Homo sapiens: one gene and its partners. The protein of the gene in region 1 purifies or fractionates together with the protein of each later gene. This does not show direct contact. Each region holds a gene or a part of one and is shown on either strand. Other genes may lie near its edges. The genes, in order: DUSP23, MTCH2, ADD2 and SUGP1.

What was found.
Region 2: the proteins of DUSP23 (region 1) and MTCH2 purify together in Homo sapiens (affinity purification with mass spectrometry, with the first as the bait; 2 studies listed by BioGRID). This does not show direct contact.
Region 3: the proteins of DUSP23 (region 1) and ADD2 purify together in Homo sapiens (affinity purification with mass spectrometry; 2 studies listed by BioGRID and IntAct, with this or other methods). This does not show direct contact.
Region 4: the proteins of DUSP23 (region 1) and SUGP1 purify together in Homo sapiens (affinity purification with mass spectrometry; 2 studies listed by BioGRID and IntAct, with this or other methods). This does not show direct contact.

Annotation. Positions count from the first base shown.
Region 1 is NC_000001.11:159,776,431-159,783,061, reverse strand, and holds DUSP23 (dual specificity protein phosphatase 23), read right to left. Parts: upstream 2,101-6,631; 5' UTR 1,962-2,100; coding exon 1,695-1,961; intron 910-1,694; coding exon 724-909; 3' UTR 519-723; downstream 1-518. UniProt on the Homo sapiens protein: Protein phosphatase that mediates dephosphorylation of proteins phosphorylated on Tyr and Ser/Thr residues. In vitro, it can dephosphorylate p44-ERK1 (MAPK3) but not p54 SAPK-beta (MAPK10) in vitro. Able to enhance activation of JNK and p38 (MAPK14).
Region 2 is NC_000011.10:47,625,553-47,632,575, forward strand, and holds part of MTCH2 (mitochondrial carrier homolog 2), read right to left. Parts: intron 6,160-7,023; coding exon 6,102-6,159; intron 5,536-6,101; coding exon 5,484-5,535; intron 5,063-5,483; coding exon 5,003-5,062; intron 3,495-5,002; coding exon 3,401-3,494; intron 1,576-3,400; coding exon 1,528-1,575; intron 190-1,527; coding exon 122-189; intron 1-121. UniProt on the Homo sapiens protein: Protein insertase that mediates insertion of transmembrane proteins into the mitochondrial outer membrane. Catalyzes insertion of proteins with alpha-helical transmembrane regions, such as signal-anchored, tail-anchored and multi-pass membrane proteins.
Region 3 is NC_000002.12:70,765,193-70,772,999, forward strand, and holds the start of ADD2 (beta-adducin), read right to left. Parts: upstream 3,009-7,807; 5' UTR 2,708-3,008; coding exon of another isoform or gene 2,694-2,707; intron 2,524-2,693; exon of another isoform or gene 2,412-2,523; intron 1-2,411. UniProt on the Homo sapiens protein: Membrane-cytoskeleton-associated protein that promotes the assembly of the spectrin-actin network. Binds to the erythrocyte membrane receptor SLC2A1/GLUT1 and may therefore provide a link between the spectrin cytoskeleton to the plasma membrane.
Region 4 is NC_000019.10:19,317,508-19,324,732, forward strand, and holds the start of SUGP1 (SURP and G-patch domain-containing protein 1), read right to left. Parts: upstream 3,003-7,225; 5' UTR 2,990-3,002; coding exon 2,956-2,989; intron 1-2,955. Other genes in the region: MAU2 chromatid cohesion factor homolog, read left to right, coding at 3,353-3,628.

The DNA of each region.
Region 1 (6,631 bases):
GGGCAGCAGAATGAGCCAGAGAGCCCAGATGAGCTGAGCAGCACCTGAGGTTGGTAAGAGGTGACCAGCCCTGTGGAGGTGGAGATGGTGGTTATCTGTGAGTGTGACATCCAGGCTGTCTCTACCCCCAGATAAACAAGGGTGACACGTGTGCAGCAGGTGGGCCTACACGGAGGGGCCTCCTGGCCTGTGAGCATCAGAGACCTGGGAATGCCAGGAGGCCAGGCTATTCTGGACCTGAATCCTTTTCATTGACTAGCTCCCCCAGAAAACACATCAAATATTGTCAGGGAACAGATACATAGCATTTCAGCATCTTCAAGGGATTGAAGACGTGTGTTGCTGTTCTGGCCCATCCTTCCACTTTCTAGAAGTGTTGAAGATGGGCCTCTCTGAGCTTTGCCCACCTCATCCAAAGAACAGAGATGGCCCATCTGTCTTTCCTGTATCACAGGGCTACAGTGAGGCTGAAGTAAGTTAATGTGTGGGAATGCTTTATAAAGTACCATGCAACGTGCCCTGGTTCGTAAAACTCATTTATTCAACAAAGCAGTACAAGCCTCCCCTTCAATCAGGACCTGCCTGCAGGGGTGGGCTACTTCAGTGTCTTCAGCCAATGGGAGCTAGAGGGTTTAATACTTTAGTCCACTTCCCTTCATCTCTGGCCCCATCGACAACATGGGGAAGGGGAGTGAGGGCCTGGTAGAAGGGTACTAAGGCCCCTTATTTCGTTCGCTGGTAGAACTGGAAGACTGCTTTCTCCTGCTCATAGGTCTCGATGGAGCCGGGTCGTAGTCGTCGGATTTCAGCAATGGCATCTCCTGCAGCCAAGCCCCGCTCCTTCACCAGGTAACAGGCCAGCATGGTGCCAGTGCGGCCAAAGCCCAGAGCACAGTGCACTCCCACAGCCTACGAAGAGGGGGCTCGATGGGTGCCACTCAACTCCCCCACCCACAACTGTTTCCTGCCCCTCACTTGGTTCTCCCCACAGCTCCTTCTTCTGTGCCAGGTCCAGGGCTCTGCAGCAAAGTCAGGGAGGGCTGTCCCTGCACTAGGTGGCTAGGAGGCCTCTGCACTGGCTGGTTCAAGAGCTGTCCACCTCTACACAGCCCTCCACCTGTGGTGTTCAATACAGAAGACAGTAGCCACGGCTACTGTGGCTACTGTACTCGAAATGTGGCTAGTCCAAACTGAGATGTAGTGTGAAAAACGCAACAGGGTATGAAGAGGTAGTAGAAAAAAGAATGAAAATATCTCATTAAGATCACCAAAGTTAATTTTATCTGCTTCCCTGCTTTTTAAGAATGCCGTTGCTAGAAAAATTAACATTACATGGAGCCACTTAGGTTCCATTATATTTGGACAGCTTTACTCTAGAAAATGGTAAACAGCCTCCACCTGACTTCAACCCCCACCTCTCCCAGGTGTCTGTCCACACCCTTCTCCTTCACAACTCACAGTATTAGCTGGTTTTCACTGCCTCTCCTCAAGCCCAGTTCGCACTGCTTCGCCCTCTCTTTAGTTCCTTCCGTTTAGCGCTTCCCTCCCCCGCACTGGCTTCCCAGTCTCCCGGCCCTACTGTCTGCCTCCCCGAGCCCAGTTAAGTTATCCCAGGCCCGGTCTCCCCAGCTCCGCCCGTGTCCCCCGCTGACCTTCCAGGCCCCTCCCTCCCTGCGCTGACCCCGCCCGCTGACCTCTCCCCGTGCGTTGGCCTCGTCCACGATCTGCACGAAGCGGTCGATCTGGTCGGGGGCCGGCGGGCAGAAGTCGGGGATGCGCAGGCGGTGCAGGGTGAGGCCGGGGCAGCTGTCGCTGTGAGGGGGCCCGCGCTCCGTCAGGGACACCAGGTGCCGCACGCCCAGGTCCAACAGGAACTGGTAGTGGGCGGGGAGCCGCGGCAGCGCCAGTCCCGCCAGCCGGCCCGGAAGCACCCAGGAGAAGTTGGGGGGCTGCACGCCCATCGCTGGGAAAGGGCACAGGACAGCGGGTCATGGGGGCCGAGGCTGGCCAGCCCCGCTCCGCCCACGCGTCCCCTCGCCCGCTCCGAGCCAAGTAACTCACCACCTACCTGGCCTCGGCGCCTCCCGGGCCACGTGGTCTGCAGGGCGCCGCCCTCGGGTCGCTCTGCCCAGCCGCGGGGATTGGCCCAGAACCTGGGGCGGGGCTGGAACGCGGAACCCAGTCTCTGAGCGACCGAGGGAAGCGCCGCGATCCCGCCCCGTCCGAGCAGATCACGCGGTGATTGGCTGGATCATCATAATGGGCGGGGGGTTACTTCCACGGGGTTCAACCCACTCAGCTAAGAAGGAAGACCTGGAGCGAGTTAGGAATTGTTTGCTGCGGATGGAACAACCCGGGGTCGGGCTCTGCTGCACCCTGGCGGCATGTTGCAGTCATTGCGTCACTGGCGCCTGCCCCTGCCTCCTCGCGGGCCGGCCTAGTTCTACCTCCTTCACGCTGGATGCCCTGGGGTTTAAGAGATGACAAATCGGCTTTCTCCCAGGACGAGGAGTCTCCTCTCTAATGATTGACTGGTCGTTATCAGCGACTTTTTGAACTGTTCCAGTAAGAGGGAATTACTGCTGCAAGGAGGCTATTCTCATTTTTTCATTGCTGGAACTATTAAAAACTTACCCAGGGTAATAATTATAGTAATAATAATAACCAGCACCAACTTCTCCTGTCAATCCAGTTGCTCCTCAGGACTTATTGAGCATTTATTATGTGCTAGATAGTCTTCTAAGCACTTAGCACATACTGACTCATTTAATTGCCACAGTAATCTTATAAGATAGGTGATCTAGTGAATCCCATTTTATGGATGAAAAAACAGAGGCACTGGAGAGGTTAATAAACTTGACCAAAGGATGATGACTAATGCCTCCAAAATCTTTAATAATATCGCCATTTCCTAAAGTTAAATGGAACATTGTTTTCTCTTCACATAACCCCCTCATGTCCCCAAATATTATCTGGGTTAAACGCTTGTGGGTTTTCTTAATTTTTATTAGTATTTCATATTTCTTCATTTTTCAAGGTTTCCTAGTTCTCTGGGTCACTGTCCCCTGGGCAGGCTAGAGTTGATTAGTGTTGTTCTTACTAGGTGGGGGCCCCTAGATCTGAACACCGTTTCCACTGTCATCTGACCAGTCCATATCCTCATTTGAATAATGTGCTTCTAGCGATGCAGACTAACTGTAATTATGAAAATAGTTAACCCTTATTGAATTTGTTTATGTACCAGGCCCTGTGCCAAGCGCTTTCTGGAAGAACCACATGTGAAAGGTATTTTTGTATCTTTTTTTGTACATGAATCATTGGAAGCTTAAAGAAGTTGGTTAACTTGGCCAAGGACACAGTGATCCAAGCCCAGGGCACTTGGCCATGAGGATGTATTATATTTCCTTCCCTTTGCACCCACCTATGACACACGTCTGACCATTTAAGCCTTTGGCTTCAGCAAGATGGAAAGCAATTTGTCTTCTCCTAAAGATCAAAGCCTGCTCTGACCCTGTGGGAAATACACTTACCATTTACCCAGACAATTACTTTCCCCAGGTTCCAGGAGGTGCCAAATCTCCCCTTTTTCTCCTTCCAGACAATCACAGCCCTCATTAAGCCCTTCCTGTTTGCACTCTCATTTCCTACATAAATTCCTATCAAGGTTACCAGCCCTCCCCAGTTTATTCCTTTCTCTCTTTCCCAGCCATGGCCTCTCAGCCACCAGTCACCTCTTCCCCCAACCCCCTGACCTCCCACTTCTCTTCTCAATTCAACTGCTCTTCAGGATTTCTGGTTGCACTACCTCTGGAGACAAGACTCTAGCATTTGTTCTTGTAAGTTAATCTTTTCTTAGTCCCTTTGCCTTGTTCTCCTTTCTTTGCTTCCCCTACTCACCAGGGAAGTTTCCACTTCACTCCCTACCCTCCTATGTGCTCCTTCTTTGCCTCCTTGATATCCAGCTCGAAGCCCATATTCTCCAGAAAGAGAAAATTTTTTTGGGAGACCGAGATCTTCCTCTTCCCTGAGTCCCCTACCAATGATTCTCTCCCTCTTGTGGGTTTCTGCAGGGCTAGCAGTGCATCCATCAAACCATTAGGGCCTCCATGTGGAGAGGCCAGTTGGCTCCCTTTTTAGGAAGCTCTGCCCTTCCCTTCCAGCAGACCCAGAGTGGAAAGGGCCCAGGGTCCCTGCCTTAAGCTTTGTCAAGGGTGCCATATGTCAAGGGTGCCATATGATGTTTTGTCTTGGGCCCAAGGGGCCTCAAACTGTAAGGAAAAACCCTCTCTGATGGTTTCCTGGCTCAGACTTCTGCAATTAACAGGACTTCTGCAACTAACCACCTTCTTGTCTGCCCACATACATGATACTGACCTTCTTTTATTCTCTCCTCTGTACAGAGTTACCTGACCCTCAGGAAGATTTAGGCTTTTTTTTTTTCTCCCATCTCACCTTGTATAAATATGTCTTCTCAGTATAGTAATGTCATTGGATTGAGGATACTTGTTTGCAGAGGAGGCAAGAATGCGTTGTTCCGTTTTTGAATTCCACACATCTAATATGGAGCCTGAGCCACAGGGCTCAAAATGTTAAGTAAACAAATGAATGGGAAATTAATAAGAAGAATGCATTGGCAAGACCGTGAAGGTACATTTCTAGGAGTGAATGTGAGTCTGTCGGACCATGTGGCAATGTGTATTTGTAATTCTTTTTAAATGCACAAGTTTGAGGACTGTGTTGAGTATTGGGTAGTATCTCTTTGAAGTGTATTTTTTACTTGACTGTGCTTTTAAATAAAGAATGGCTGTGTCAGTATGATCTTGGCTATGTCTAATTACTATTTTTGTGAAATGGGACAAATAAAGCTTGTTCTTTATAGAGCACTGCTCTTGTAGTGTGCATGTGTGTGATGGCTTGTGTATTTGAGTGCTTTGGAGGGGCCGTGTTCCTGGAGAACAATCTATTGACACTGATGGTGGGCTGAGTAGTAAGCTTAAGAAATTTCCCTGACTTCAAGGAATTTACAACATCCTTGCGGGGGATTTAGACTCTGATGTAATTATTCTCAGGACATATAATAAAGTACTAAATTGCTCATCAAAGACAATCAGATAATACATATTAAAAAGCTAATTGTGCAGTAAAAACAAGTGCAAAAGAAGTCAGTGGGGGAAAGATAAGCTTGAATTGGAACTACCAGAAATGTCTTATGAAGAGAGGGATTTTTCTTTCCATTTTGTCTACTGTCCAATGAAAAGCTCAGCAGACCCAGCAATCCCATTACTGGGTATATACCCAAAGGAATACAAGTCATTCTTTTATAAAGATACATGCACCATATGCTTATTGCAGCACATTCGCAATAGCAAAGACATGGAATCAACCTAAATGTCCATCAGTGATAAAGAAAATGTGGTACATATACACCATGGAATATGATACAGCCATAAAAAGCAATGAGATCATTCCCTTGCAGGGACATGGATGGAACTGGAAGCCATTATTCTCAGCAAACTAACACAGGAACAGAAAACCAAACACTGCATATTCTTACTTACAAGTGGGAGCTGAATGATGAGAACACATGGACACATGGGGATGGGGAACAACAAATGCTGGGGCCTGTCTGGGGTGGGGACTTGGGGAGGGAGAACATCAGGAAGAATAGCTAATGGATGCTGGGCTTAAAACCTAGGTGATGGGATGATCTGTGCAGCAAACCACCATGGCACACTTTTACGTATGTAACAAACCTGCACATTCTTCACATGTACCCCTGAACTTAAAAGTAAAAAATAAGGCTTAACAGAACATTTTTTAGGGCATCTCAGCTTCCCTTTTTCCAGCTGATAAGAATGTTTTGACTTAGTTCTTGTTCATATTGAGGCCCCAGTCCCCTGTTTGGCTTGATGCTAGTGGCAATTAGGGGTGCAATTGGAGTCAGAGAATTTCTTCCTCCAGGTAGGTCCCTGTGTTCCACCAATGCAAAGGATTGCTTGGGTTCAGGTTCCTGTGGCCCTTGGACTACAGTCAGAATTCTCAGTGTCCTCAGTGTTCTGATTTTTTAATGTCTAAACACACTTCACACCTAAGATCTGATAATCTGGAAACTGAACCTAAGAAGAAATGGTATGGCAGCTAGCTTCCAAGATGGTACCCAATGAGCCATTTCATGCCTGTGTAGTGCTTTTCCACATTGATAGGGCTGATTTTTGCAACCAGTAAGATATTGTGTAACTGGTGGTGTGTGACTTCCTAGGCTGCATCATGAAATACTTAATTTTTGCCTTGTTCTGTCTTGGAAAGAAGGCCTGCCATGGGAAGCTTTGGGAAGAAGCCAGCTGCCATGTTGTGAGAACTCTCAAGCAGCTGTGTGGAGAGATCCATGTGGTGAGGAACTGAAGCCTCCTACCCACCATCAAGTCAGTGGCTCACTACTGTTGCAGTGAATTCTCCAGCCCATGAAGACTTTAGATGATTTACCCAACATCTTGATTATAGCCTCATGGATTCCCTGAGCCAGAACAACCCAGCTAAGCCTCTCCTGAATTCCTTACCTACAGAAACTGTGAGATAATAAATATTTATTCTTTTAAGCCATCAAATTTTGGGTAATTTATTATGCAGTAAT
Region 2 (7,023 bases), on another chromosome or scaffold:
TAAAAAAATACCAATCAGAGATTGATACTGATCATTCATCTTTCCTAAATTTCTACAAGGCTGCTCCGCCTGTCAGCATACAGTCAACCACCTACTAGAATAAGAAATACAAAGTGCTTACCCACAGTTGTTGACAGCCATAAGATTGGAGACAAGCACAAAGGGATAGGTCAACATACTCGCAAAAAACTGTAAAATGGAAACAAGGCAGCTGTTATTAGATCATTCCTAGTCTTTATTCTCCTTTCCTTTACCTTAAAGGCCTAGTGCCACTGCGGTGAGACACTCTAACACTTGTCTCGCTTCATCGGTACCCTGGAAAGACAACAGTTACAGTTTTGAGCCTGGAGATGCTTCTTCCTCTTAGCACACCACTGCATCCAACATTTTAACAAAAGGCCAGAAGAATTCTCTGATCCTGAGTAGCTGGGACTATAGGCGCACGCCACCATACCCAACTACTTTTTTTTTTTTTGAGATGGAGTTTCCCTCTTGTTGCCCACGCTGGAGTGTAATGGTGTGATATTGGCTCACTGCAACCTCCGCCTCCTGGGTTCAAGCGATTCTCCTGCAACCTCCGCCTCCTGGGGTTCAAGCGATTCTCCTGCCTCAGCCTCCCAAGTAGCTGGGATTACGGGCATGCACCACCATGCCCAGCTAATTTTGTAGTTTTAGTAGAGATGAGATTTCTCCAAATTGGCCAAGGTGGTGTCGAACTCCCGACCTCAGCCTCCCAAAGTGCTGGGATTACAGGAGTGAGCCACCGCGCCTGCCCCAGCTTTTTTTTTTTTTTTTCACTTTTGTAGAAATGGGGTCTTGCTCAGTTGCCCAGGCTGGTCTTGAACTCTTGGCCTCAAGTGATCCTCCTTCCTTGGCCTCCCGAAGTGCTGGGTTTACAGGTGTGAGCCACCATGTCTGGCCTGAACAATATTATTTCGGAGGAAAGGCACGCCCCTTATGAAAGCTAAGCAGTACCAAACCATGCAGGATGTGAGGCAGGGGTTCTGCCTTACTCTCTTTATTTTCACATGTGAGTCTGTGGTTCCTTCGAAAACTGAGTTATTCTCTCTTTTTTTTTGAGATGGAGTCTCACTCTGTCGCCCAGGCCGAAGTGCAGTGGCGTGATCTCAGCTCACTGCAGCCTCCATCTCCCAGGTTCCAGTGATTCTCCTGCCTCAGCCTCCCGAGTAGCTGGGATTACAGGCATGCACCACCACGCTCGGCTAATGTTAGTATTTTTAGTAGAGACGGGGATTCATCATGTTGGCCAGGCTGGTCTCGAACTCCTGACCTCAGGTGATCCGCCCACCTCACCTTCCCAAAGTGCTAGGATTACAGGCATGAGCCATGGCGCCTGGCCGAAAACTGAGTTATTCTTACCTTTGACAAATATAACAAATTTCAGGGAGATGTCCCAGTGAGACATCTGGTTATCTTAAAGCAGTGATGACACAAGCCAGATTTAAAAGGAAAACAAAACAAAACACAACTATTCCTAGAAGGTTAAAAGGATTTTAAAAAACTCACTCCTGTGACAGCTTGAGAATAACTCTTCATTTCATTCATGGTAGAAACCTAAAATAGGAAAAGAGCCTTAAATTAATTACCTACAACACTACAACACATCAATATATTCTTTTTTCCTTTTCTTTTCTTTTCTTTTTTTCTTTCAGACAGTGCCTCACTCTGTCACCCAGGCTGAAGTGCAGTGACCTCCTGAAGCACACATCACCACGCCCAGCTAATTTCAAAATATTTTTTAAGAAATGGTGTCTTTTTTTTTTTGAGATAAGGGTCTCCCTATGTTTGCCCAGGCTGGTCTCAAACTCCTGGGCTCAAGAGATCCTCCCACCTTGACCTCTCAAAGTGCTGAGATTATAGGCATAAGCCACTATGCCCAGCTAAGAGACGGTGTCTTGCTATGTTGCCTAGGCTGGTTTCAAACTCCTGGCTTCAGGCAAACCTCCCACCTAAGCCTCCTGAGTCGCTGGAATCATAGGCTGGAGCTACTGTGCCTTGCTCTCCATGTCAATATAGTCTATCTCTAAATTATCAGTTTGACAGCTTGAAAATTAATTTTTTTTTTTTTTTTGAGACAGGATCTCATCTCTCTTGTTGCCCAGGCTGGAGGTGCAGTGAGCTGTGATCTCACAACCTTGACCTCCTGGGCTCAAGTGACCCTCCCACTTCAGCCTCCCAAAGTGTTGGGATTACAGCATGAGCCACCACACCTGTCTAAAACTAATTTTGAGGACAAAACCATAAAACACTGATTATTAGAATAATAAGGCAGTGGTCAAAATGATCAACCTGATTCAATATTAACAGACAAATTCATATTATACTAAAATGCTTTAGGGACGAATGTAAAAGGATTTCAAATACTAAAGAAAATGAGATTGATAACCTTTTCACACATCCTAGAAATACAGTCCCTGGAAAACCACATTTATAGTATATCTAAGGGACAATTCACTACCTTTGTTTTACACAGCTAGCTTTCTACCAGATGCGTTGAAGAAAATCCCTCTCTGTACTCAAGAGGTTTACAACATGGATTTAGTCATATACCCTGTGATGTGTTCAATTTATCATCATGCTATGGAGCTGCCGACATACAAGAGGCCCCACAACTGCTGAGATAAGAAAGACAACTTCTAGATAAGACTGATTCTCAAAAGGCTGAGGTTTCTAGAAAGCCCAATACAGGCACCCTCTTAAGTCCAGATTAGATGAAAAGCCCCCGATACACCATAAAGATGTCCTGCTTTCCCAGGTTCTCTCAAGTTAAGTATCAGTAAAGAAGTGATCTCTTTAAAGCCCTGAAGTAACACAGGGCTAAGTCTCTTGGGTATACTCTGTCACATCTTACGGACTTTTAACGTGTATCGTTCTACAGTAAACAGTATCGTTCTACAGTGAACAGTATGCTCATTTCATTAGCATTTGAAAATTTGACTGATAATTTTTAGCTATATAATTGTTCAGTCTGGCATGTAGCAAACTGTCATCTTGTTTATTTATTTATTATTTATTTTTTGAAATGGAGTCTCCTTCTGTCACCCAGGCTGGAATGCAGTGGCGCGATCTTGGCTCACTGCAACCTCCGCCTCCTGGGTTCAAGCAATTCCCCTGCCTCAGCCTCCCAAGTAGCTGGGACTATAGGCACGCACCACCACGCCCAGCTAATTTTTTCTGTATTTTTAGTAGAGACGAGGTTTCACCATGTTGGCCAGGCTGGTCTCGAACTCTTGATCTCAGGTGATCCGCCCACATTGGCCTCCCAAAGTGCTGGGATTACAGGTGTGAGCCACCTCGCCCGGCCCATCTTACTTTAAAAGCTAATCTAGCTGCCAGATTAAAGCCAAGGTGAGCACATCTCACGAAGGTCACAACCTACCCCACTGTCCAGTGCATAGGTATTGACGAGGTAGGCCAGTGAGTTACACAGCCACAAAGAAAGGATGTCACCTAGAAGGCGAGGAACAAGACCCCTACATGAAGAAACAATAAAAATAAGAACCAAAAAATGTGATCAGTAACATGACAGGCTCTTCAGTACAAATGTTTGTCAAATAATTAGAGGTCACAAAACATTCTAGGGAAGTAAAAAAGGAATCAAACACCAGAATCCAGCCCGCATACCTAGTTCATTCTCGTTAACACAGCTGTACTTGAAGCTGATCTCCAGTGACTTTTGTTCCTATGTTTAAAATGCAGGTCGGCTATACCCTCAGTGGCTCACCTTACTATTCATAACTGTAAGCAGGGAGGCAAAAGATTTGCGAGGTGCTTTGCAGAAGAGACTTAAATATTGTTTTGCTTTGACTAGCTTAAAAAAATGATTTTGCTAAGCTATCTGATATTCATATTTGGCAGAGCAAAAGACGAGAAAAATTACAAAGCAAGAATGGTCCCAAGTACAGATACAGATGAGAGGCATCAAAAACCACATTTCTAGGGTCTGGGTGACCTAGGTGAGGCAGCATGGAATAGTGGGAAGAGCATTTCCCCACGGATTGAAGACCAGCTTCAAATGCCAGCTCCAGCACTCAGCAGCGATGTGACAGGCAGCAGATGAAACTCTCAGAGCATCAATGTTTTTTAATCTCTAAAGTGATACTAATTATAGCTGTCCTGCCTATCTCACAGGGTATTTATGATATTCAAAATCCGTATGGGGAGATACTCTGAAAATTAAAAAAAAAAAAACAAAAAACACCATTTCGGTAATGATGCAAAATTTTTCCTCATAGAAGAATGAGGGTAGTAGTCTAAGTTCTTCCAAAGTAAATTCAAGCCTTGCAAAAACTTACTCTTTTACGGTAAGGAAAATACAAGTTAAGATGATTTCCCCATTTTTCAACATTTAATTTTTCTCATTTTATTATCTATATAGAATTGGGAGTTTACTACAAGGGTAGAAACTTGGAATTAAGTCCTTTGTTAAAAAAAGAAATTCCTTATTTATTTATTAATTATTATTATTTTTTTGAGACGGAGTCTCACTCTGTCACCCGGGCTGGAGTACAGTGGTGCAATCTCAGCTCACTGCAACTTCCACCTCCCGGGTTCATGCAATTCTCCTGCCTCAGCCTCCCGAGTAGCTGGGATTACAGGCACACACCACCACACCTAGAGGTGGGGTTTTACCATGTTGGCCAGGCTGGTCTTGAACTCCTGACCTCAGGTGATCCAACCGCCTTGGCCTCTCAAAGTGCTGGGATTACAGGCGTGAGCCACCACGCCCGGCCTCAAATGTTTTAAGTATCTAGAAGTAAAGGTTTGGGATCTTTACAAGATAATTCTAGTCATATGGGGCCTAAATATGCCTTTCTGCAGAGAAAAAAGAAAAAAAAATAAGGGGCCTAAATAGAATGTAACGTGAGGTAAGCCCAGGGAGTACGTTTTCCCCAAGGATTAAACAAAGACTCACTATTCTTACTTTCAGAAAACGTTTCCCACTCATGCAAAAATTACACACTAATCAACATTTACTCACGCGAAAAATCCTAGAATGCCCTCTTCCCGATAGATGGTTATTATGGAATCACAAAGTCCACTACGTACACAAGAAGAAAAGGTAAAATATATTAAGATTCTTTTGGAGCTATAAACAAAATAATTTCAATTATCACATTGGACAAGGTCAAATCCACGACCTCCTTCCCTCACACTTTTCTAGCACTCTCTCACTCTGCAAAGATAGCTAAATTTGGAGATAGAAGTGAAAATATTAACTACCTAGGGGTATAGTCATATGGAGTCAGGGGCTCTGCAACTTACTCTGAAATCCTACGTAGGCTACTAAACCTGCCTGGGTATATTTTCTCCCATTTTATTGTTTTTTGTGCAGATCAAATGACATCAGATACGAATTTGTTCTACAAATTGTAAGGGTATCATAAAAATACAAAGTAGTATTATTCTAGTACTTTGGCTTCAAAAGATCTCCTTGAGTATGTGAAAACAAAAATACTTACCAGTACTTGGATTCTCTGCCAATGAACTGTACCATAGATCTCAGAGTGATCACTGTGGAATATAGAGAAAAGATGTTTACAACTATGTTAAGGCCAGGTGCGGTGGCTCACACCTGTAATCCCAGCACTTTGAGAGGCCGAGGTGGGCGGATCACCTGAGGTCAGGAGTTCAAGACTAGCCTGACCAATATGATGAAGCCCCATCTCTACTAAAAATACAAAAATTATCCAGGCGTGGTGGCATGCACCTGTAATCCCAGCTCCTTAGGAGGCTGAGACAGGAGTACTGCTTGAACCCGGAAGGCTGAGGTTGCAGTGAGCCAAGATTGTGCCATTGCACTCCAGCCTGGGCAACAAGAGTGAAACTCCGTCTCAAAAACAAAAAACAAACAAACAAAAAAAAACTATGTTAAGATAGATTTTGATAGCCCTGGGAAAAAAAAAGATTTTCCACCTAAAGACATTTTGCTATCTGGATAAATTGGATAAAAGCCAAAACAAGCAAGCAAACAAAAACATGCAGGCAAGGCATTTTAGTCAACTCCCACGTCAACCTATCTAAGTGGTCAGGAGAGATCAGGTTATAAAAGAAAGGTCAGTTGTCAACTGCAAACATACCATGGAAGGGATGTGTGATGAGGGTAGCAGCAGAACGAGCGATCATCTCTCGAGTTGTCTAGAAACAATCAACACACACTTCTGAAATCTAAACAAATGACACTCAAATGCCTGTGAGAAGGAATGTGGGTGGATATCGTGGTATAGGATAAGAAAGTGAATGACACAGCCCTCCTGCCCTGGCTGGAGTCAAGAAGAGTTTGAATGGGATGTGAAAGATCTCATTCATTGTCATTTTATCATACTTTTCACTCATGGATCTCAATGTTCTATTATAGTTACTTCTCAAAATTTCTCTGCAAAGCAGGCTTCTGTTGTTTTCTCAATTTTACAGGTAAGAGAAAAAAATAAAGAAACAGGAAAGGTCACCAACAAAGTCATTAAGCTGAAATAAAAAATATGAGGCCTTTATTGAGATTATTAAGTTGCTCTCTTATTGGTAAGTGATTTTGGAGAGTCTGACATCATTCTAGATAAATGACAGGCTCCATTTAGTCTCTACTCACATTTTTGGGAGAAGAGAACAATTTTGTTTTGTGACTACAACCCAGTAACTGTGCAGTATCTTAGAGCTGCTGTGTTTTTCCTAGTTTATCTTTCTACTCTAGGGCTCTGTAAGGAAGTAATAAAGAAAATTAAATTATAATCTTTGCATTTAGGTTCTGGGATTGCAAATGTAAGCAGGTCTACCATTGGCTTTTGCATTTTTTTTTTTTTTTTAGGACAGTCTTGCTCTGTCACCCACGCTGGAGTGCAGTGGCGCGAACTCGGTTCACTGCAAGCTCCGCCTCCCGGGTTCACGCCATTCTCCTGCCTCAGCCTCCCAAGTAGCTGGGACTACAGGCACCCGCCATCATGCCCGGCTAATTTTTTTTCTTTGTATTTTTTAGTAGAGACGGTTTCACCGTGTTAGCCAGGATGG
Region 3 (7,807 bases), on another chromosome or scaffold:
AAATGCAAAAATTAGCCGGGCGTGGTGACACGCACCTGTAGTCCCAGCTATTCGGGAGGCTGAGGCGTGAGAATCACTTGAAGCCAGGAGGTGGAGGTTGCAGTGAGCCGAGATCATGCCACTGCGCTCCAGCCTGGGCAACAGAATGAGATTGTGTCTCAAAAAAATATAAAACATAAAAAATAAAAAAGAATTGTTGTGTTTTTATGTTCTGGCCATATAATGTTTTGTGTTTTGTGTTTTTCCCACATAGCTGTTATCACAATTTGTAATTATATATTCATTTGAGAGATTTCTTGATGAGTGTCCATTTCTTGCATTTGTCTTTAAGCGCCCATTAGACACAGACCACGTCTATCTGCTTTATCCCTTTGTTCCCAGTACGTCTTACAGAACCTGGCACGTAGTAAGTCCTCACTGAATGTTTGTTGAGTGAAGAAGTGTGTGAATGAGTTTAACAAATAAATAAAACATATAAGCCATGGGTTCGTCAATTTCTTTTTTGCTTATGCTGCAAGAAAGTTTAGAGCTGTTTTTGTTTCCTGCCCGTAGCCATTGTAGAAGGTCTCATGCTCATGTTTTTGTATCAGCCTCACGCTTAAGACCATTTTATGACTCCACCCTTAGTGTCCTTTTTTCTTTCCCAACTACTTCCAAGTTAGGCTGCCTTGCCATATTTATGAATCCCTGTAAACTATCTTAAATCCCTTGTGGAAGAGGTGGTAATAAATAAATATATCTACTAGTCTTTTTTATATATATTTAAAATCTTAACACTAAACCCACTGCCAGCAAACACATTTGCTCAACTGTTAACCTTAAGAATAGCTGAGATTTGCTAATTCCAACACTATACTAATATTTAAAACAAATTCAATCCAAGCCTAGAAACCACAGCATATCATGTCAGGCATTGTTGTACATTGTGTATATGACAAGCATATTTCTAATAAGGCTAGGCAATTTGGTGGACAAGAAAGAACATAGGGCTTACTACAAAATTCTTATGGATTTTGGATCAAAGAATAATTTATCTTTAGTGGTTTTTCAAAATGTGTTGACATCATACCAATAATGAAAACTTTGCTTTTACTTGTGCCCTATGCAGGGAGGAGTAGGGAAGAAAGGCTGGGCAAGATCCTGATCTATAGGAGAAAAGTCTCTACAGAGAAAAGTTTGATCACATTACACAATTAAAGTAGAACCTTATAAAGTAAAAATATTAAATGGTCTAAACCCCCCTTTTAAGTCTCTAACATATATTATTCATATGCTAATGGAGATATTATTTGCAAGTCTGAAACGTCATAGTTCTCTTCTTTGGTCAGATTCATTTAAAACACTTTTACTTCAAATGCTGACTTGCTATTTTTCTCTTAAAACGGAACATAATTTTCTAATGCCATTAATGAGAACACCCCTCACTGCACAAGTTAAACATCTCAGGAATCCCAGCTAGATCCACAAACTAGACATGAAAGCAGTTGCTTGCACCCTCTCCAATCCCTTTGCTTCTGCCAGGATGCCAGACCAACCACTCCTTTTGGGTTACTCGGGAAGCACGAAATGTGCATTTAGGAAACTGAGATTTGATTTCTATTATCGATAAAGCTCATCTGAGTCAGTTGAATCTTAGACGACAAACAGCAAGAGGGAAGAGTGGGTGTAAGGAAACAGATGGGTATTAATCATGTGTCAGAGATAAATGACAGTTTTTTAAAGAATTTGATAGGGTGTGGGCTGGAGCTTGCTTTTTTATTTTCTATTTCTATTTCCTATTTTCTATTTTTAGTTTTGGGCAAGAGATGGAGATTAGGGGTGAGAAAAGGAAGGAAGAGAAAAGGCAAGACAATAGGCCAGACCCGAGAGCCTGATCTGCATCCTAAAGCAGTCTGCCCCTCCCTCCCTTCCCCCCAACACCAGGTAGGCTGTGGTGTGATTTAAAAATAAGCAGACACCGACTCCCGCCTCCGGGACCGGGGATGGCCTCCGCCCCGGCTGCAGAAAGGGAGGGGAGGCAGGGAGAGGAGAGGGAAGATGGAAGAAACAGACTGGCAAGACCCCCTCGGGTACAGTGGGATTTTTCCCTCCAAAGTGGTGGAGCCGCATAAAATCAAAACCCACGAGGCCCGCTCACGTGCCGGTTGCCCCGATCTCAATGTAGGCGGCTGCCGACGCCGCACCTGCTCGGCCGGCCACTGCGGCTGAGCGCCGCGCAGCCAGCGATCGCGAGGCCCCGGGGGACGCGCCCAGCCCCGCCAAGCCCGCCTCGCACCGCTACCCCGGAGGGCGGCGGCCGAGCGGGAAGGAAAGAGAGGGGAGGGGAGGGAGGGGAGGGGAGGAGCGGCCCCGCCCGGCTAGGCGAGGCGAGGCTTGCCGCCCCTCCATTCGGACCCAAAAGAAAGCCCCACCTGTCAGGCGTTACGCTCCGGGCGAGGGTCCCACCATCCCCAAGCAGGGGCCAGTGCTTGCAGCCCCGATTTCCTAAGAGCCTCGGATGCTACATCATCACCAGAAACCTTTAGGCGCAAAACACACCGCTGCCGGCCAGGGCTGCAGCACCGACGCGCTCGGCAACAGACGCGCCCCACCTGGGCCAAGCGGCTCCCGCCCGGCCGAGGGATGCCAGGGTCTCCGCGCCAGGAGACCAGCGACCCCAGGCAGCCCACCAGGCCCGCTCCCCAGACCCTTACCTCCTGCGCGGCATCTTAGCTATCTCCGGTCGGCCACTGCGGGTTGGTTTTGTTATTTTATGGGTTTGGGGGGTGGGGTGCGCTTAAAAAATCCACCCAGCTAATCTGCAGGGCAGCGTTTTCTGCCCATGCTGCAGCCCGCGCTCGTCAGAGCTGCTGGGAGATCCCCCAGCAGTGCAGCGGCTCCGCGGCGGCGGGGATGACTGGCCACCGACGCCGCAGTTCCTTGACAAAAGGCTCGGGTTCCCGCTAGTCCCTCACAGCCCTGCCGTCAGAATTAAAGCCATTTCCCGCACGAGGCTGGGAGGAAATGAGAGCTCTCCTGGCCCTGCGCGCTGACAAAAGGCCGCTGCGCGGTGCCCACAGCGCCCCCTCCAGCAGGCCGCGCCGGCCGCCCGAGGGCCGCGGTGCTGCAGTGCCCCCGCCCGCAGCGCCCCCCACCGCCCCGCAGCGGCCTCGCCCCGCAGCACCCCCACTACCGCCCCGCAGCGCCCCCCTCCTCCCCGCAGCGCCCCCGCCCGCGCCGCCGCAGACCCCCCTAGCCAGGCTTCCAGCCCCCTTCCACCCCCGCCCCGCACCACTCACTACCCGGGATGGCCAGAGCTAAGCAGGGGAGTCTGTTACTAGGGAGAAAATCTGAAACAGAGCTCCCTTGGGGGAATGTATTCTCCCTGGAAGGAAGAAAGCAAAAGTCTTAGACTTGGAATATTTCTTTTCGTCTGGAAAGGACAGCTAGCCTTCGGAAGATAATTCTATTAGTGATTTTAATAGCAATTGTTTGACTGAATTCCAAACCAAAATTCTCCCTGTCCTGATTCTCACTCCTTTTCAACCAGGACAACATTTTTGTTGTGGCCCTGCCCTTGGGGGCTGTGGACCCAACGCTCTCCAACTCTCACTACATTCTCCTCTCACTCCTTTCCTTCCTCAGGTCTCCCGCCCCAGAAGGAACAGGTGTGTAGTGAGTGGGGAACTGGATAGGGAACCAGAATACTTCGGTTGCCGTCTCAGAGCTGCTCTTAACTAGCTGTGAGACCTTAATCAACCCACTTAACCTCTCTGGGCCTCGTTGTCTTCCTCTGTAAAATGACAGTGTACCTAAGGCACCTCCCATTTCCAATACTTTCAAGGCCTGGCCCTCAGAGAGTAGGGGTGTTAAGAGATAGCTCTGGACTTTTCACCCCCATAATCTCCACCAGTCCCCAAAACTCCCCTCAATCAACATCCTCTCCAAGGGCTTTTGAAAATGTGCTTGTGAAAATGTACAGCTTCCAGAAAAGCCTCTGGCCACTGATCTGAAACCTGATCATGGCCCCTCTGCCCTTCCAGGTTCTGGGGCACCACAGCCCTCAGACACCCCCACAAAAGTCACTGGCCCCCACCACAGTGCTGCTGTGGAACCAGAATCTCTGGAGGTAGGCTCAGGATTGGTAATTTTAACAAGCAGCCCTAGTGATTCCTTTGCACACTAACACTTTAGAAACACCACTCTGAGAGCTACTACTGATTTAGAAAAGAAAATGCTAACGACAACCCTAGATGCCAGGATAAACTTGTCTTTCTGCTTCAGCCCCCCTTCCAAGAAACATACATGCATACCTGGTCCCTGCACCCTCCTTCCACACTCAGAGCTTCTCACTCATTCTCATTCAGAATCACCGAGTCCACAAGACTTCTCCCCATTCTCCTGTCAAAACCTGCTAGAAGAATTACAACAGGCTCAGCCACACAAGATGAAACCCCTTCCCCTCCCCACCCCAGGACCTAGGTCTGTCTGGTCAAAGAAGCCAGGACGTGTTATGTTTATTGAGTCATTCCTGGCAGCCATAGCTCTTTTGGTGCTAATGGGTGATGAGATCTGAGAAACAGGGAACCCCTTCTCCAGAGCTCAGAAGTCACAGGTAAGGTGGGCTCTATATCTTAATAGAACCCCCAAAAAGAATGGAGAATTTTTGTTAGAAATAGCAGGTTTCATAAGTCACCCCAGTCATTTCCATCCCCCAAAATTTCTCTTCCTAGTGTGTTATTTTGTTTTCTCACATGAATCCTAGCAAACCCTTGTTGGTTCCTGGCACTGTTCTGAGAGCTTTACATGCATTTTCACATAATCCTTGCAAAAACTCTGTGAGGGTGGTACTATTATCATCCCCATTTTATAGATGAAGAGACTGAGGCACAGGGATGTTAAGTCGCTTGCCCTAGGTCACACAGCTAGTGGGTGGCTGAGCAATGAATCAAACTCAAGTGCTGTGGCTCCAGAGTTTGTGGGCCCTAACCACTACACTGCATGGCCTCCCAGAGGGGACAATAAACTTTTTTTTTTTCTTTTGAGACAGAGTCTCATGCTGCCCCCCAGGCTGGAGTGCAGTGGCATGATCTCAGCTCACTGCAACTTCCTCTCCCCAGGTTTAAGCGATTCTCCTGCCTCAGCCTCCCGAGTAGCCGGGATTACAGGCACGCACCACCACACCCAGCTAATTTTTGTATTTTTAGTAGATATGGGTTTTCACCATGTTGGCCAGGCTGGTCTGGAACTCCTGACCTCAGGTGATCTGCCCGTCTCAGCCTCCCAAAGTGCTGGGATTACAGGCGTGAGCCACCACGCCTGGCCAAAAATAAACTTTTTAAAGCAGAGCTGGTACAAGACACTGAAAGGCTGATAAGACTAATACATTCTCCTTCCCCCCGGCAAAAAAAAAAATGATTCTGCTCCCCTAGTCATCACAGGAGATACATATATATATTTATGTTTATATATGTATATATTATATATATTACATATACACAATATATATTATATATATTACATATATTTTTATATATATATGTCCGGCCTCTCCCAGGGTCTATCTGATACTGCATACTGAGAAGGTGGTGCCATCCTGGGACTTTAGGAATTGTCCAAATGTCAGAGAGGAAATAAGACTTCATTAATTCCCATATTCATAGCCTATATGAAATTTTAATTGAAGTTCCAGAAATTCTCAATTTCAAATTCACTTCAAAATCCAGGAAAAGGAACCACAACTGTAGTTGGCTCCAACTGTCAATGGGAGACCAGGAGACTTCAGAGCTCCCACTGCAACAAGCCCAAGATGCCTGGCCCTTAACTGGGGCCAGAAAAACACAAGAGACCCCCATGTCAGACCGGGGAAAAATCACAGCTGGCTAACCCTCCATGGCCAGATAGTTTAAAATTAGACTCTCTGACTGATTTGCAGTAAAATTTCTCATCTTCCAAGTCTTCTGACAAAAATGTTTCTGGCCAAGAATAACTAGTAGAGAGAGAAGCTGGCAGTGCAACAGTGAGCCCCATCTCCTGGTATCCATTGCCCTGTGTATTACCCTCTCCTTAGGTGCTGGCACGACTGTGGCTCACTTCTAACCGACAGGATAAGGCAAAGATAATGGGATGTTCACTTCCGTGATTACATTACATAAGATTCTTTGTCTTGCTAGCAGACTGTCTCAGTTGGCGTCTTGACCTGCATGCTTTCATTAGTAGCCATGTTTGGAAGATCTACATGGCAAGGAACTGAGGGTGACATCCAGCTAATAGCCAGCTGGAAACTGAGAACTTCAGTCCAAAAAAGTCCTAGAGGAAATGAATCCCACTAACCATCACATAAGTTTAGAGGCTGATCCTCCCCCAGTTAAGCCTTCCACTGAGAACCCAGCCCTGGCTGACACCTTGATTTCTGCCTTGTGAGAGACACTGAAGCAGAGGACTCAGTTAAGTCATACCGAGACTCAACTCCTGGCCACAGAAACCATGAGATAATAAATGTGTTGTTTTAAGTTGCTTAGTTTGCATTAATTTGTTACACAGCAATAGATAACTAATACGGGGGCTTAGCACTCTATAGGCCCAGGCATGCTTATCAATGGCCTTTTCTAGGGCATGCTGGAAATGCTGGAGAAATCAACACCCCTGGGATCAGCCCTCAACCAATGACCATTAGGAGTTTGTGGATAAACAGCCTGGCTCCCTCATCCCTGAGAGTTGGGAGAATACCTCAGTGTTCTCCATTGTCTCCCAGAGAGCCTCAGCAGGATTGAGCCCCAGCTGCCCACAGCAGTAACCTACCTGCTCACTCACGCATCTTTTATGGGCTTTTCTTCCCTATATCACTTTCCCACTCCCTTACAGGTGCCTCCCGGGCTTGCTTCCCAACTTACACTCAAATCGTAATCTACATTTAGGGGAACCCACTTTAAGATGGGGCAAGGGAAGGAAGACAGTGCTTTCAAAGGAAGACCACTGATAAGTTGTAAGTCTAGATGTTCTGAAGATACCCAATAAATGAAAGTTCACCTCTATGGCTGATGCTGCTCTGGAAACAGAAGTGAATTGGGAGTCCAGGGCCTAGGGCTCCAATCTCAGTCCCAGGGAATGTGTGGACTTAGGAAAGACCCTGACCCCTTATTCTCCCTTACCCAGCTATAAAGTGAGGGTGACAGCACTTGCTCTCTGTTATGGGCTGAATCTCATCCCCCTCAAATTTATGTGTTGAAGTCCTAGCCCCCAGTGCTCCACAATGTGACTGTATTTGGAGCTAAATCCTTTAAAAAAGTAATTAAGGTAAAATGATGTCATATATGTGGGCCTTAATCCAGTATGACTGAGGTCCTTATAAGAAATTTGGACACAAACTGGCATAAAGGGATGACCATATGAGGACACAGCAAGAAGGTGGCCATCTACATACACTCCAAGAAGAAATCATACCTGCCCACACTTTGATCTCAGACTTTGAGCCTCTAGAATGGTAAGACCACACATTTCTGTGGTTTACCATTACCATCTGGGATGCTTTGTTATGGGAGCCCCAGAAAACTACTACATCCTCCACCTGGCCAAGGTTGTCATGTAGACAAAATGGGACGCCAAGTGAAAGCACTTATGGTCTTATTACCTATTGAGACAGCCAGACAGTGTAACCCCAGCCACACCAGGAAATAACCAGAGTGGTTCCAGAGACAAGAGAGCCCCAGACTCCAGTTCCCACCCTCATGTTAGGTCCAGACCTGGAGAGCTGTGGATAGAGCTCTTCATGTTGAGCCCTGATAACATGTAAGTCCCTCTGGGGGAGGCCTTCCTGTACCCGATGTTA
Region 4 (7,225 bases), on another chromosome or scaffold:
GAATGCAAGATCCATTGGGTCTTTTTTTGAGACAGGGTCTGGCTCTGTTTCTCAGGCTGGAGTGCAGTGGTGTGATCTCAGCTCACTGCAGCCTCCGCCTCCCCGGCTCAAGCAATCCTCCCACCTCAGCCTCCCAAATAGCTTGGATTACAGGCATGCACCACCTCACTTGGCTAATTTTTAAATTTTTTCATAGAGATGAGGTCTTGCTATAGTGCCCAGGCTGGTCTCAAACATTCTTTCCACCTTGGCCTCCCAAAGTGCTGGGATTTACAGGCATGAGGCACCGTGCCCCAGTGGCTTTTTTTTTTTTTTTTTTTTGAGGCGAACTGTTACTCTGTCAGCCAAGATGGAATGCAGTGGCACCACCTCGGCTCATTGCAACCTCCACCTCCCAGGTTCAAGCGATTCTCCTGCCTCAGCCTCCTGAGTAGCTGGGATTACAGGCGTGAGCCACCACACCTGGCTAATTTTTATATTTTTAGTACAGTTAGGATTTCGCCATGTTGTCCAGGCTGGTCTCGAACTCCCGTCCTCAAGGGAACCTCCAATTTACGCCTCTCAAAGCGCTGGAATTACAGGCGTGAGCCACCGAACCCAGCCTTCTTTTTTTTTTTTTTTTTTTTTGAGATGAAGTATTGCTCTTTTCCCCCAGGCTGGAGTGCAATGGCGCGATCTTGGCTCACTGCAATCTCCACCTCCAGAGTTCCAGCGATTCTCCTGCCTCAGCCTCCCGAGTATCTGGGACTACAGGCATCTGCCGCCATGCCTGGCTAATTTTTTCATATTTTTAGTAGAGATGGGGCTTCACCATGTTGGCCAGGCTGGTCTCGAATTCCTGACCTCAAGTGATCCACCCACCTCAGCCTCCCAAAGTGCTGGGATTACAGGCGTGAGCCACCACACCCAGCCGTTTTTTTTGTTTTGTTTTGTTTTTTTGAGACAGGGTCTCGCTGAGTTGCCCAGGCAGGAGTGCAGTTGCATGATCGTAGCTCACTGCATCCTCAAACTCCTGGGCTCTAGAGATTCTCCCACCTCAGCCACCCGAGTGGCTAGGACTACAGGCACACTCTACCAGGCCTAGCTATTTTCTTTTATTTTTTGTAGAGACAGGTTCTTGCTATGTTCCCCAGGCTAATCTTGAACTCCTGTCCTCAAGGGAGCCTCCCATTTAAGCCTCCCAAAATGCTGAGATTTTAGGCATGGATCACCACACCTAGCCAATATCCACAGGGTCGTTTTATTTTCATCCTGGCTACTAGGTAATCATTCTGGCCAGAGAATCCACAGGCAACAAGACCAGGGAGGCTCACTGGCTCCAAGCAACAGACAATGATGTCTTCAGACTAGGGTGATAGTATGGAGACAGGGAAGACACCTCAGAGGTTCCCCATGGGACTCAGAATAAAATCCAAATTTTAAAAGTCTGAGCCGGGCATGGTGACTCACACCTGTAATCCCAGCACCTGGGAGGCTGAAGCAGGCAGATCACTTGAGGTCAGGAGATCGAGACCAGCCTGGCCAACATGGTGATACCCCGTCTCTACTAAAAATACACAAAAACACTGGCCAGGTGCGGTGGCCGGCGCCTGTAATCCCAGCTACTCAGGAGGCTGAGGCAGAAGAATGGCTTGAACCCGGGAGGTAGAGGTTGCAGTCAGCCGACATCGTGCCACTGCACTCCAGCCTGGGCGACAGAGCGAAACTCCGCTTCAACAAAAAGAAAAAAAGAATTCTAAAAGGCCATTTTCAAGGCCCCGCCAGATGGTTCCCCTCCCTTCTGCTTCATCCTTGACATTCTTCAAAAGGACAAGCCCATCCTACCAGGGCCTCTGCATTTACTGGCCCCCCTCTGTGTGGAAGGCTCCACCCTCCAGGGATTCCCATAGCTGGCATTCATTGTCTTAACTCAAATGTCCTCTGCTTGAAAAGGCCTTTCCCTGGGCCAGGTGTGGTGGCTCACACCTTTACGTAACCCCAGCACTTTAAGAGGCTGAGATGGGAGGATCGCTTGAGCCTAGGAATTCCAGACCTGCATGGGAAACGTGGCAACACAAAAAACACACAAATTCGCTGTGTGGTGGCGCGCATCTGTGGTCTCAGCTACTAGGGAGGCTGAGGTGGGAGGATCACCTGAACCCAGGGAGCCACAGTGAGCCACTGCACTACAGCCTGGGCGACAAAGTGAGACCCTGTCTCAAAAAAAAAAAAAAAAAAAAAAAGAAAGAAAGAAAGAAAAGGTCTTTCCTGACTACCCAATATCAGAAGCCTCCACTCTGATCATATCATACGTAACCTCACATCATACGTAAGTTTTTGTAAATATTTTCTCATTAATGCACTGACACCCCAGTAGAAAGCAACCTCCAGGAAGGCAGGGCCCTGTTTCGGTCACCGCTGCATGCGTAGCGCCCAGCACACTGCTTGGCACACAGTGAGCACGCCCTAAGTATCTGCTGATGGGTAAATGCATTCTATTCTGGGGAAGCAGAAAGGCCAAGGCTTGCAGCAAAGTGAGGGTCAAAAGACGCGGGAAAGTGTGTCAAGGGAGCCTCAAAGCACTTCGGAAAAGCAGCTTTTCCAGAAAGCGGGACACAGGCCAGAGGCCAGCTGCGACGAAAAGAGGGGTGCAGGGACAGCCCAAGGTTGTCGCCGTATTGGGGAACGGAGGTTGGAGCAGCCCTGAAGGCGGTTGTTTCGGAAACGGGACGCAGGGCCGAGCCGGGTGGCGGCCTCTACGGAGATCCGTGCGTCCTCAGCAAACCAAGCGGGGGCGGCCAGCAACCTGGGTCTGGGGTCTCGAGAAACCAAGAGGTGCAGAAGCCGACGCTGTGGGCTGCCCCGGGGCTGAAGCGAGGGATCCACGGGTCGCAGCAGGACGGACCCGAGGAGTCAGGGGAGACACCTAGCCCCAGGGACCCAGGCGGCCGCCTGAGAGGAGGCGGGGGCTGTTACCTGCAACATCCCGGTTGTCCATCTTGAGACTCATCCAATCCCACAATGCTCCGGCGCCCCTTAAGGGGCCCTGTTATAGTGTGCATCGCCTGATGGGAGATGTAGTCCGCCTCGGTCAGACTCGCCCTATTACTGCGTGAACGACTGGGTTTTTTTTTTTTTAACCTCCAGAAACGGAAGCCTCAGCCTATCAGCGATGCCTAAGTCCCAGTCACGATAACCAAACGGCGTCGCCCTTTTACACCTTCCCGGAGCGGCAGTCATCCCAAATACAAACTACATGTTCCAGGATGCTTTGGGCGGCAGATCTCGCGGAAGCCGCGAGGAGAGCCCGGCCCCGTCTCGCGCGCCTGCTTCCGCCTCCCTGTGGCGGCGGCTTGTTGTTGTGGAGGCCAAAATGGCGGCTCAGGCGGCGGCAGCGGCCCAGGCGGCGGCGGCCCAGGCTGCGCAGGCCGAGGCGGCCGACTCGTGGTACCTGGCGCTTCTGGGCTTCGCTGAGCACTTCCGCACTTCCAGCCCGCCCAAAATCCGCCTGTGCGTGCACTGCCTGCAGGCCGTGTTCCCCTTCAAGCCGCCGCAGCGCATCGAGGCCCGTACACACCTGCAGCTGGGCTCCGTTCTCTATCACCACACCAAGAACAGCGAGCAGGCGCGCAGCCACCTGGAGAAGGCGGTGAGCGCGGGCCGGGCCGCGAGGGAGGAGTCGCGGGCTCCTTGCAAGATCTGGGCTGACGGGTCGCGACCGCGGCGGGTGGGGGGCCGCTCCTCGGCGACCTGGGGGCGCGACCTCCGTCAAAGCCGCAGGACCCCCACCCGCCTCTGCCGGACCCCAAAGCCACCAGCCTCTCAAGGGACACGAAAGCCTCGCCCCCCACGCCTTATTTCCCGTTTCTGGTGACAGGGCTCCAGGAGCCCCGTCACCGTACTCTGAAAGTTGCCTGTTATTGGGAGCAACAGGATCCGCAAATCGTCTGGTTTTCAGGAGGATCCCACCTGTTGGTGGCGATGGGGACATCACAGGGTCCTGAAGCTATTAGCTCCTCCTGGTTCAGCTTCCGGAGCATCAGCCCCAAACGCTTCCACCTAAAGTGACTTGGGGTAGGGGTTGGCGAAGGCGAGACCCCTGGCATTCTCCCGGGAATCTGAAGTCTGGTCTCTCAGGAACCTGGAAGGGCATGATTCTCCTTGGACACAGAAGTTTGGTAATCGTGGTTTTTGGAGGGTCTTGTGCCCCCATCAATAATGCCTGGTGTCGTACGAGGGAAGCTGAGACCCGGAGTCTGGAGTTGGTCATTTGAGGCCTATGAGGAGGAGAAACAGGGGTTCTGGATTCCAGGCCCCGCTGTTCAGTTTCAGTATTAGGGGAACTAAAAGCAGCTCCTGCTTTTTCTCCATCCACTGGTGACTTCTACCATCCATCAGTCCATCCTCTTCCGTCAGAGTGAGTCCCTCCCCTGACCCAACTTGATTTGTGTCATCTTGGTGCCTCAAAGAATGCGGGAGAGTGGCTGTCATTCTGCCCTTTAGTAAACTTTCTTTTTTTTTTTTTTTTTGAGACGGAGTCTTGCTCTGTCACCCAGGCTGGAGTGCAGTGGTGCCATCTTGGCTCACTGCAAGTTCCGCCTCCCGGGTTCAGGCCATTCTCCTGCCTCAGCCTCCTGAGTAGCTGAGACTACAGGCGCCCGCCACCACGCCTGCCTAATTTTTTGTATTTTTTAGTAGAGATGGGGTTTCACCGTGTTAGCCAGGGTGGTCTCCATCTCCTGACCTCATGATCTGCCCACCTCGGCCTCCCACAGTGCTGGGATTACAGGCTTGAGCCACCGCGCCCGGCCCCTTTAATAAACTTTCTAGGGCCAGGCTCAGTGGCTTATGTCTGTAATCCCAGTATTTTGGGAGGCGGAGGCAGACAGATTACTAGACCCCAGGAGTTTGAGACCAGCCTGGGCAACACAGTGAGATCCCGTCTCTACAAAAAATACAAAAACTAGCTGGGCGTACTGACGCGGGCCTGTAGTCCCATCTACTCCAGAGGCTGAGGTGGGAGGATCAGCTAAGCCCCGGGAGGTCGTGGCTGCAGTGAGCAGTGATCACGCCACTTCACTCCAGCCTTGGTGACAGTGAAACCCTGTCTCAGAAAAAAAAGATAATAAGGAAAAAATAATAAAATTTCAGGCTGTGGAGTCGTTTTTTTCTCACAGCAGCGCTGTGATCCTGTCAGACCCCTGCCTCCCTTTTACCTTTTACCCAGCTCTGTCCTGCTTGAATAGAAAATTATTGAAAAGAATCAACTCAGATTTTAAAAACTCATTAATCTGAGGTAAATCCAAGCCCACCCTCAGCTAGTAACAACTTGCCTTGAGGAATAGATCAAATCTTTGTTTCACAGACTGAAAAGTTGGAAGGAGACTTTATTTTATTTTATTTTATTTATTTGTTTATTTTGAGACGGAGTTTCGCTCTTGTTGCCGGGGCTGTAGCGCAATGGCAGGATCTCAGCCCACTGCAACCTCCGTCTCCCGGGTTCAAGTGATTCTCCTGCCTCAGCCTCCCGAGTAGCTGGGACTACAGGTGTGCGCCACCACACCCAGCTAATTTTTGTATTTTTAGTAGAGACGGGTTCACAGTATTGGCCAGGCTGGTCTTGAACTCCTGACCTTGTGATCCACTCCCCTCGGCCTCCCAAAGTGCTGAGATTACAGGCATGAGCCACTGCGCCCAGCCCCAGATAATTTTTTTTCTTTTTTTTTTGAGACAGATTCTCGCTTTGTCACCAGGCTGGAGTGCAGTGGCGCGGTCTTGGCTCACTGCAACTTCCGTCTCGTGGGTTCAAGCAATTCTCTTGCCTCAGCCTCCCGAGTAGCTGGGATTACAGGCTTGCACCACATCATCTGGCTAATTTTTGTATTTTTAGTAGAGACAGAGTTTCACCATTTGGTCAGGCTGGTTTCGAACTCCTGACCTCAAGTGATCCGCCCATCTTGTCCTCCCAAAGTGCTAGGATTATAGGTGTGAGTCACCACATCTGGCCAGTTTTATTTATTTATTTATTTATTTATTTTGAGACAGGGTCTCGCTCCATCACCCCGGCTGGGGTGCACTGGCGTGATCTCAGCTCACTGCAGCCTTGACCTCCTGGGCTCAAGCAGTCCTCCCATCTCAGCCTCCTGAGTAGTTGGGACCACAGGTACGCACCACCACACCCAGCTAATTTTTGTGTTTTTTGTAAAGACAAGGGCTTGAACTCCTGAGCTCAAGCCATCCACCTGCCTCAGCCTCCCAAAGTGCTGGAACTACAGGCTTGAGCCATTGTGCCCAGCGTGGAAGGCAACTTTAGTCCTCACTTGATCAACTGCCTTGTTTCAAAAGGGAGGCATTATGGGCCCAGAGAGGTAAAGTGATTTGCCCAAGGCTGCACAACAAGTTATTGACAAAACTAGGCTCAAACTCCAGCTCAGTGATAACCAGGTTACATGCCAAGATGATACATCATTATTGTTTTGGTGAAGTTTTTTTTCCTTTGATTCATTCAACAGATACTTGTTCAGCTCATGCAGGATGCCAAGCCCTATTTTTGGTGCCGGGGGATCAGCAATGGCTAAAACAGTTTCTGCCCACGTAAGCCTAGGTTTTCATGAGGAAGACAAATGATAAGCATATAGTAAGAGGTTAGGCAGTGATGGAAGAACCTTGAGAACTGAACCAGGGAGAAGAGATGGAGTTGACTTGGAGCTATTTTTGGCAGAGGTAGTGAGAGAGTCTCTATTTGTGGGAGTGACATTTGAGCAGAGGCCTGAATGGGTGGGGCAGGGAGCCTGGAGAACCACTCGGGGGGTCAGGTTGATGGCAAGGAGTGCCTAAGCTGTCGGGGACTGGCAGATGGTATCAGGGTCTCTCCAGGGTCATGATGAGGCTGAGATCAAATGAGGCACCAGACTTTATTGACTGGGAGGGGTCTGGTGGCCCAGCATCTCCAGTGGATGTGCTGGTTCTAAAACTCTCCTTTCTCTCCATGAACAACTCCCACCACCTGCCTTCCCTTGTCTCCCAGGGCTGTTCAGCCTGTTTCTGGCAGTGGCTAATAGTCACTGTGTGTACTGTCGTATTTTGCCCACTCAGCCCTGTCTAGGAGAAGCAGTCATGCTGCAAATTGCTCGCTTTACCACTTGGCTTTTGGACCCATAATTTAAACCCTTCTCCTTGCGAAGTGCCTTTGCTCTGTCAAATGGAACTTTGAATCTTGAAGGGTCTTCCACTGAGCCACATGGTG